Linked DNA regions of Homo sapiens: region 1 is linked to region 2. Evidence: fine-mapped expression QTL. A gene starts in region 2. The other region holds a variant in brackets. All regions are shown on one strand. Distances are from middle to middle.

Region 1 (4,393 bases), 990 kb before region 2:
GCCAGAAATAATTACATAGCTATGTATAAAATAAGGGGGATGGGGGAATTATAATCTTTGTGTGTCCTGAAGTGGAGAACACTTGAATACGGGGGAATGTTACTAATGTCTACCATAGTCAGTCTCTTCAGCTTCACCCATGTGTGTTGGAAATAGAAGGGTGTGCTCTTCAGACATGAAGAAGAAAAAAATGACTTCATTACTATTGGTTATTATTCTTTTTATATTCTAATATATGTAGGATTGTTGCCAATAAGATTTTTATTTAAGATTGGTAGCAAGACCGGTCTTCATCAATATTAAAACAATTATTTTAAAGCTTTGAAATTAAGTTAAAGGCTATTACTTAAAGCAGCATGAATACGAATTCCAAGTAACAATCAGTATGATGATTGCCTTACTAAAATAACTTCAATTGAATCAATGTGCCCATGTGGAACACCTAGGGATTACAGGAGCAACTTCCATATAGAAGTTACCTCAGTGAGCTGGTTTCAAGCATGAGCCAGCAATGCAAATGCAGGCATATCACTTAAAAAAAAAAAAGAGATGAGGTCTGTCTCTCTCGCCTAGGCTGTAGCACAGTGGCAAAATCACGGCTCACTGCAGCCTAGAACTTGTGGGCTTAAGGGTTCCTCCTGCCTCAGCCTCCCAAGTAGCTGGGACCACAGGTGTGTGCCACCACACCTGGCTAATTAATTTTTTTTTTTTTTTTTTTTTTACAAACAGGGTCTCACCATCTTGCTCAGGCTGGTCTTGAACTCTTGGCCTCAGGTGATCCTCCCACCTTGGCCTCCCAAAGTGCTGGGATTACAGGCATGAGCCACTGTGCCAATGTGCCTGGCCCATTCGAAATACAAGATATATGCATTGTTTTGGTTTTTTAAAATTGCTTTCAAAATCTCTCACACACTACCACTTCTTTCCCCACTGTAGTCAGGAAGGAGGCAAGATTTGGGGAAGAGAAAGGATGGAATCCACTCAGGCTAGTTTTGGTGGAAGTAAAACAGTTTTCTAAGGAAAAAAGGGAACTACACTGTTTCTTTCTTTCCTCCTCCTTGGCTAACGTGTCAAGTGGTTAGGGGACCGTTATTCCCCTCCTTAGCTGGCCCTCTGGAGACTAGCGCTGTCCAATAGACCTTCCTATCCCTGCAATAATGAATATGGTAGCCACTAGGCACAGACGGCTATTGAGTACTGGAAGTGTGGCTACTGCAACTGAGGAACTAAACTCTAATTTTATTGAATTTACTAACTTTAAGTAGCCATGTGAATTCAGGTGATAGGAGAGAGGGAGGTTGTTCTTATTCCTGTTTTCGGTGTAGATTTTTCTGTACATCACAATGATTTTATCTTCCACACAAGATGTTGAAGATGAGCTGAGTCAGTGGGGGATCGGGTGGGAGTGAAGCGTGGACCGAGGCAGAGCCTGCTGCAATGCCTCCCTTCCTAGCCAGTGCAGACCAGGCTCCCTTCATGATCACTGGCGGACAGGACCAAGTGATGCCCAAAGACGGCACAGACACTAAAATGGGGACGATTACATGAATCTCAGACCTGATTTTGTTTTAAAGCCTATGACTTAGGATATGAGAAAAGAAGAAAGAGGCAAATAAACCTAGTGTGGTAACCTTTTAACATAGCATTAGCATCCATTTTTTCATAATATATTTGGATATAAAATCTTTATTGTGCTCAAAATTCTTATTAAAAATGCAGTGAACTGTAGTTTGTACATTTGCAGCCTCTCATTCCTCAAATTGTTCTTTTGTAAGAAATAATTTCTTTGATGGTCATTGTTTAATGAAAGACATGGGCAGTTATAAAAGAAAACTAATGTCATCAAACATTCATCTGGTGACTCCTATGTGCTGGTGCTATGCTAACAATGAATGGCACTTTGCAACACTAATTTTTAGCAAAATAACGACTTCTTAGCTGTAAAGTCCCCATGGGTGTGTGTCCTAGAGGCATATATTCTTTTCTATCTTTGTCTACGGTTCATTTTGGAAAACACCTACTTTTATTACACGATTGTAAAAATTAGTGCTCATATTAAACAATTTAATGAACCGAAGTGCCTCAGTCCTTTCGAAGCCTGACTGGCCTCCTCTAGATCTTTGGGCAGAGGTCAATGTAGAGTGATTTGCTGAAATGCTTGGATTTTATTCTTGAGATTTAACATGAAGGCAAGTGAGTGAAGTGAGGTAGGAAAGCACGTATGATTTCAAGATAATCTGATTTTTTAAAAGATAGAACATTTCACTTTCTGAATTAAAATTATCATCTTAAATAACCTTATCTCAAAGGAAGTCCTATTCCAAACATAATATCTAACAACATCAAATTTTTTTCTACCAGTACATACGTATAAACAGGAAAACTATTTTTTAGCGGAAAGTTAATTGTTGATACCACCATATTTGTACTCAAATGCAAGACCATTTCTAGTTCCACCCTCCCCACCGTACATTCCAGAGCCCACCTTTATTTTACCCTGACATTGTACCAGCATAAAATTCCAATATGCTAATTACTTCTCCAGATCATGCCATAGTTCTGATGCC[A/T]TAAGACAAATATTAAAGGTTTACTTTTTATGTTCAGAATAATTGGGTAATTGTCGTCATCCTGTGACAGGTTTCCCTTTTTCCTGAGGTCTTTTGACTAATGGTTCTATTGTTATTGTTGGAGTGGCTCATGCCCCATTGTGTCATGACGCAAAACTTGATCTGTGGTAGAAATGCCTTACACATTTATTCCCTCCAGGAAACCAAAGGGCAAGAAAGTAACATTCCAGATTGAGAACCTGGCTTTTTGCACCATGACCTAACCTGTTCCAGGTGAAAAATATTAGGCCAAAAATAGTTTCATGAGAAAATTTTTACGTGAGTTCCTGCAGTGGTTCTCAGTACTAGCTGCTTGTTAATTAGTTAGTTAATTGATGGGCAGCTTAAAGCAATCACTATGTGGGCCCCACCTGAAACTTGTTAAAAAAGACTGATTTCTGGGGGCCCCATTATATGCTGTTGAAATTTAGACTCTCCACAGGAGGGTCCTGGGTATCTGTACTTTAAACAAAACTCTCAGATTATCAAATAAATTTGGTCAACTTGATTTAAGGTATTGATCTTGGGAAAGAGCACTTCATACTTTTTTTGAAATAAACTTAGTGGCCTTCAAGACATATTTCTAATGCCAGTATCTTACTTGTCTTCTTTTACTTATTTGCATATGAATACTATTAAAGAAGGAATATTTAACCATAGAGAAGGTTTGTTTACATTTTTGTCTTCAGCCAAATCAAGCCTTTCATAATTTTATGTATTAAAAATAAAATTTAGATCAGACTCCCATCTCTACAAAAAATGCAAAAATTATTGTAGCCAGGTGCGGTGGTATGTGCCTGTAGTCCCAGCTGCTTGGGTGGCTGAGGAAGGAAGATCGCTTGAGTCCAGGAGTTTGAGGCTGCAGTGAGCTATGATTGCATCACTGCATTGCAGGCTGGGCAACAGAGTGAGAACCTGTCTAAAATAAATTGCATTTTCAAGTTGTACTTTCAGCAGCACCAGATAGTATGCTGGAGCTCAGAGGCCAGGAGAGGAGCACTTTCCCTCTACTTATTATAAGAGGTAACTTAATACTGATGGAGGAGTGTCTTGGGTTCTTACACTTGGAGACCAATTTGTCATTCCATTCAACACAAAATAACAAGGGATTCACTAGTTCATACATTATTTCTATTCAACAAATGTCGTTTGACTGTCTACTGTATGCCATACTGTGTTAGGTATCAGGGATACAAAATAAAGTAAATTGGGATTTTTTTCTTGTTAGAACTGGTAGGTTAGAGCAGATATTCTTAAGGTGTGATCTCTATCCAGCAGCATTGGCATCCCTGGAAACTTGTTAGAATTGCATATTCTCTTGCCTTACCCCAGACCCACTAAATCTGATTCTCCATAAAGCTTGAGAACCACTGGCCTCTAGGAGGAGCGATCAGTTCAGCAGAAAATTAGAGTACCTTGTGGTAGATACAGTGGAGATGGGGAGGAGGCTAGGACTTTAGGAATGTTTCTGGGAGGAAGAGATGCTTGAGCTCTCTAAAATATTTGGTGCAGAGTGGGGGGAGGTGTTCCTAGAGAGGTCAGCAGGAGCCACACAAAAAGCCATGTTGCATTTTACTCTGAATGCAACATGGAATCTTTTGGACCCTATAGTCAGTTCATTTACAATTATCATCAATGTGATCTTTTGACCAGACTTTTAGCTAAGTGGTGCTGGTCTTGAGCTCTGTGTTTCAGGTGCTTCCTCAGATATGGGAAGTTAGAGAAATGCAGGTGTAAAAAATTCCTCTCGCATTAAAATCTAACACAGTAGTGTTAAATAAAGATTT
Region 2 (4,393 bases):
AAGCCCAGTTCATGGCCTGACCCGTCGTCACCAAGGCCCGGACATGCTATCGGCTCCCTGATCTATGAGAGAACAGAGGTTTGGGCCAAGGACACTGGGAGTTATACTTCTGGGCTTCTCAGCTCTCAGGGTCCCAGCGTTTTAAAATTTCGTTTCATTTTTTGGTTAGGTTAACAGAAACAATGGGGTTATTTCCGGTAGTGGCAACAGCACGAACTAGTTTTCTTGTGGACTAATGGCCCGAGAGTTCCTGTGATTTGTGGATTATTTCCCTTAGATGCAATCGACCATTTCGTTCCAATAAGAATTAATGCTACCACGGGGCTTACAAAGAACCCCTCAAGTCTTCCAAATCTGCCCATGACATCAACCTCTGCTGCGTAATCGGACCTGCACCCAACCCAGGTTTTTAGTCACTCAAGCGCGCTGTGCTACAGAACCAGGGAAAAGCACTGAAGCTCTGAACATAGAGCTTGGCCATCAGGGCCACACCCCCACACCCACCCGGGTACCATCCGACCTAGGGACTCTTCCTGCTCCGAATCTACCTGGCAGGGCCTAGAAGCCACTATCCAGGTGCCTGCTTTTCAATGGGGAATGTTTTTTACCCCGATCAAAGAATGACCTCAAAGGTCATTGTACTGTAGTAGAGAAATAATTACAAAATACAAACACTCCAAATAAAATAACAATCACTCAAGTTTCTTATTTGTAAGTGATCAGAGTTAGTGATCCAGGATAATTTGCAGGCATCAGCTGGCCACAAATCGTGGACCTCCATTTTGAAATGAGCATGATTCCATCATTAATTACGAAAAACACCTTTCCACAAAGATGACATGTTTTGTTCAGAAACTCTTTTATGGCCCACGTTGTTACATTGGAATTTTAAGGGAATAATAAGTTAGGATTTACCACTGGGTGCTTTGGGAACCATACCCTTGCCTTGCGCAGGCAGTCTCATGCGCAATGCGGCAGACTGTCCAAAGGTTTCATTTCACAATGTTCATGAGGGAATAGGCAATAGGATTTGCGAACTGCATCCGCAAGTGCCATTCAAAATCAGTGGGAGAAAATAGCTTTTTTTCTTCTGCAAAGGATTTTCTTTTATGCATATTGTTTCAGTTCAGCAGTTTTGAAGTTGAGGGAAGAATGTTGCAATGTAATATTTATTAGCAGGTGGGAAAAAAAACACAACCCATCAATACATTTAGAGAGCAAAAAGATCTACTCTTTTCCTACTCTGGCAAATAAGAAACACACGATGTTTCAACACAGAGATGTCTTGTATTTCTCAAAGATCTATTGGGTTTTTACCAAGACCTGCACCATATATTCTGATACCATTACCTCCCAAAACATGGATTCATTTTGTGATATAAAAGAATCCAAATTCACCTGACGGATTATCATATGCGGGAAGAGCCTATCTTGAGTTGCTTAAAAATTTCTCTAAGAACTAGAGAAACATTTAAAAATATTTAAAATTCCATCTCATACAACACAAGGCCCAATAAACCATCAACCCTAGAAATTAACCAGCATCAGTCACTAAAGCCTAGATTCAAACACCAAGCACATCCTAGAAACAGAGAATTCACCCCACCCCCACCCAAGCCCCAACCCTCAAAAAACACCTGTTAGCCTCCCAGGAACCTCTGGCCACGGCCACAGGTAAACCACAAAAACCACAGCTCTATATAAAATGCCTTTAGTGACCCCCAGCAAAGTGGAGATGTTCAGTAGTAACCCGTCTATACACTTTCCTAGGGTAGGATTGAGGGGCTCTCCATCTAGGCAGTGGGATCCTGTCTGTGGCTACCCGTATCTCAGAATTTTTGAAATAATACTGCCCCCTTAGACTTCTGAACCCAGCCGGACTCCACCCCAGGCCCCAGGGGACGCCCTAGGAACGAAGTGATTGGGGGAAGGGGCTTAGACAGCGACCCCCCACTTCCCCGGGAAATGTAGGGGAGCAGCCGGACTGAGCTGCCCAAGGGGGTCGGCGCCCCAGGCTTCTTGGTGGCATGCTGGGGAGCGGGGAGGGGGCGATTCTTACCCGAAGGCTGCCGAGCTACAGGCGGCGGTCGGTCCGGGCGTCTGCTGTAATCCACTAGGCGCTGCCCGGCTGCGCTCACTCTCGGACGCAGAGACCCGCTCATGTTGGTGAAGAAGCCGCGCCAGAACCGCGCGGCTGCAGTCACCTCGAGCAGGCCGGCTGCTCCTGGCAGGCGGTGTCGGCGCCGGCGGGGGACTCGGCGCCCAGGGCCCCTTCCAGGCCCTCCCTCGCCGGGCTCCCCACCAGCTCCGGAGGTGGCGGCGATGCGGACCGAGTGAGCGGCGGTGGGGCCAGGCCGGGCGCCGGGCGGGAGCCGAGGCCGCGGCGGACTCCGCAATCCCGCAGCCGGTGACTGGAGCCCACCTCTGCAGAGACAAAGGTTAGAAAAAGAGGGGGTGAGGCTCTGGGAAAGCAGAATGCGGGGGGAAATTCGCCGGGGAAATCAGGAAAAAGGCCGTGAAGGCGAGCGGCGCCTGCACATGACCAGCCGCAGCCAATGACGACCGCAAATAGGTCATAAAAAGGTCTATTACCAAGTTGTAAATTTTCTTCAAACAAAAAGGAATTTACTGCAATTCCTTGCGGATTTTGCACATACAGCTCGCAAGCGCCATGTTTTTTCCTCTTCTGCTTTCTCTCTCCCCCGCCTCCTCTCTTCCTTCTCCTCCTCCTCTCTCTCTCCATTCTCTCTCTCCTTCCTCCCTTCTCTTTCTCTGTCCCTCTTCACCTTTCCCTTTTTCTTCCCTTCGTGGTTCTTCCCTCCCTCCCCGCCTCCTCTGTTTCTTTTTCTAGGATTTATTTGTGTGTGTGCGTGTGTGTGTGTGTGTGTGTGTGTGTGTGTGTGTGTGTTCTTTTCTTTGGTTTGGCTCAAAACCTCTGCGCAGTTGGCCATCGTGAAGGAGGGAAATGAACTCAATGTACTGCTCACGCTCTGGGGAAGCGATCCCCACAGCTACCTCCTCCCATCTCTCACCCTGTGCTAGTCACTTGGCTTCTCCTCCTCTCCCCTCAGGAAAAGGCCTGTCCCCAGAGGCAGCCAACCACTTTCGGTTTCCCCTCCTCCCTCTCATCTTGCAAGCCAGCCCCAGTTACCTTGGGAAGAAAACGAGGGATCTGCAGGCCAAGAAAATGTGCCCCCAACACACCACTCCAACATAAATTGGGGTCCCTCCCATTCCCGGGAGGTTCTGCAGTAGGATAATCACCAACCAGCTTAAAGGCTTCAAATGGTTTTAGGTACTTGTCAACCTCTCCGAAATACCCGTTTGAAACTCTACCACCTGGTCTTTCTCCACAGAAACATCTTTCTGGACAGACAGGGTTATGGTTTCTGGATCCCTTCTGAAACTCCTTGCTCTACGTCCTCCTCTAAGAGCAATTCTCATTTTTATGGAGTTTAATTCTAGTTCTCCCCTCTCCCCTTGCCCCCAAATATTTCCCAATTGAAAAATTTGTTCAACGCAATACTGAAAAGACATTTGTTCAGGAAAAGAGTGACTTCCTCAGATCAGCCTAGAAAAAAGAATAATTCCTTTTCCTCAAAGGCCGGTGTCACATTCCCTTTATATTTTTCACAGGAACTGCTCTGGTGAACTCCCCCTGAAAGTAAATGTCCTTGGCTGGCCTCCAGCATTCCCCTCATGGGCATAGCCATGCAGCCTTCAGAACCTTCCTGAAAGAGGTAACACCACCCCCCATCCTTTTAAAGACAGTGTCTTTACACTTCCAGTACTATGTTACAAATGTTTGCATCAGATACCTGTGTATAAGTTCTCTGCTATTAACATCTGCACACCCAGTAAGTGCCTAAGTGGATGTGGACTGAAGCAGGAAGCAGCACAGCACCCTCTGGAGCAGGCCATTTGTTATCCCTTGAAAAAGTTCTGATGACCTTGGATGTTTTTGATTAAAGGACTTTTGCTGCCATCTGTCAGCAAAAGTCATATTCTTTCTAGAAAAAAGCCAATGGGCCCTAACTTTGCTGGAGGGAACCGCAGCAGCAGCCAGGGCCCATTAAAATGTTCTCTCTCCTCCCATGTCCATCCCTAGATGCCCAAGGATTCAGCAAACACGGGGGAAGCAGAGGACACAAGAAGCTTGGATGTGAAATAGCACTTCCTTCTGTGTTACAGAATAAAACAATATTTTAAATTACACAAGCAGATGGGGCAAGTTTTTGGGCCCTCAGAAGCCCAGAAGACTTCACACTAGTATACTGGTATATACATGTGGAATTGAGCAAATAACTTGTTTAATTCCAAAATTTTCTGAGAAATAATCTCAATAGTCAATTTGCCTCATTATCCTCTCCCCATCTTACCCAAATAAAAGCAG

Which allele goes with the higher level. Alleles are on the strand shown, and positions count from the first base shown. SD is a standard deviation of normalised expression in the study named.
In carriers of allele A in region 1, the expression in visceral fat of the gene that starts at base 1,961 in region 2 tends to be lower than with T alone (moderate effect, 0.48 SD a copy in GTEx).

What was found. PIP is the estimated chance that this variant, and not a neighbour inherited with it, causes the effect.
Region 1: its variant is the best candidate, but not a certain one, in a credible set for the expression of HOXD-AS2 in visceral fat (GTEx, PIP 0.65).

What each region holds. Positions count from the first base shown.
Region 1 is chr2:177,122,861-177,127,253 of GRCh38, reverse strand. The region is part of intron 1 of LOC105373760 (a long non-coding RNA gene); the gene reads left to right. Among named protein-coding and RNA genes, the nearest start is that of MIR4444-1, 88 kb to the left of the region's middle. The variant A/T (reference allele first, on the strand shown) is at 2,568.
Region 2 is chr2:176,134,666-176,139,058 of GRCh38, reverse strand. HOXD-AS2 (HOXD cluster antisense RNA 2) reads left to right here and starts at 1,961. Exons shown (of 3, transcript NR_038435.1): 1 at 1,961-2,438; 2 at 3,637-3,740; 3 at 4,109-4,218. LOC401021 (a long non-coding RNA gene) reads right to left here and starts at 2,447. Exons shown (of 2, transcript NR_148241.1): 1 at 2,060-2,447; 2 at 1-62.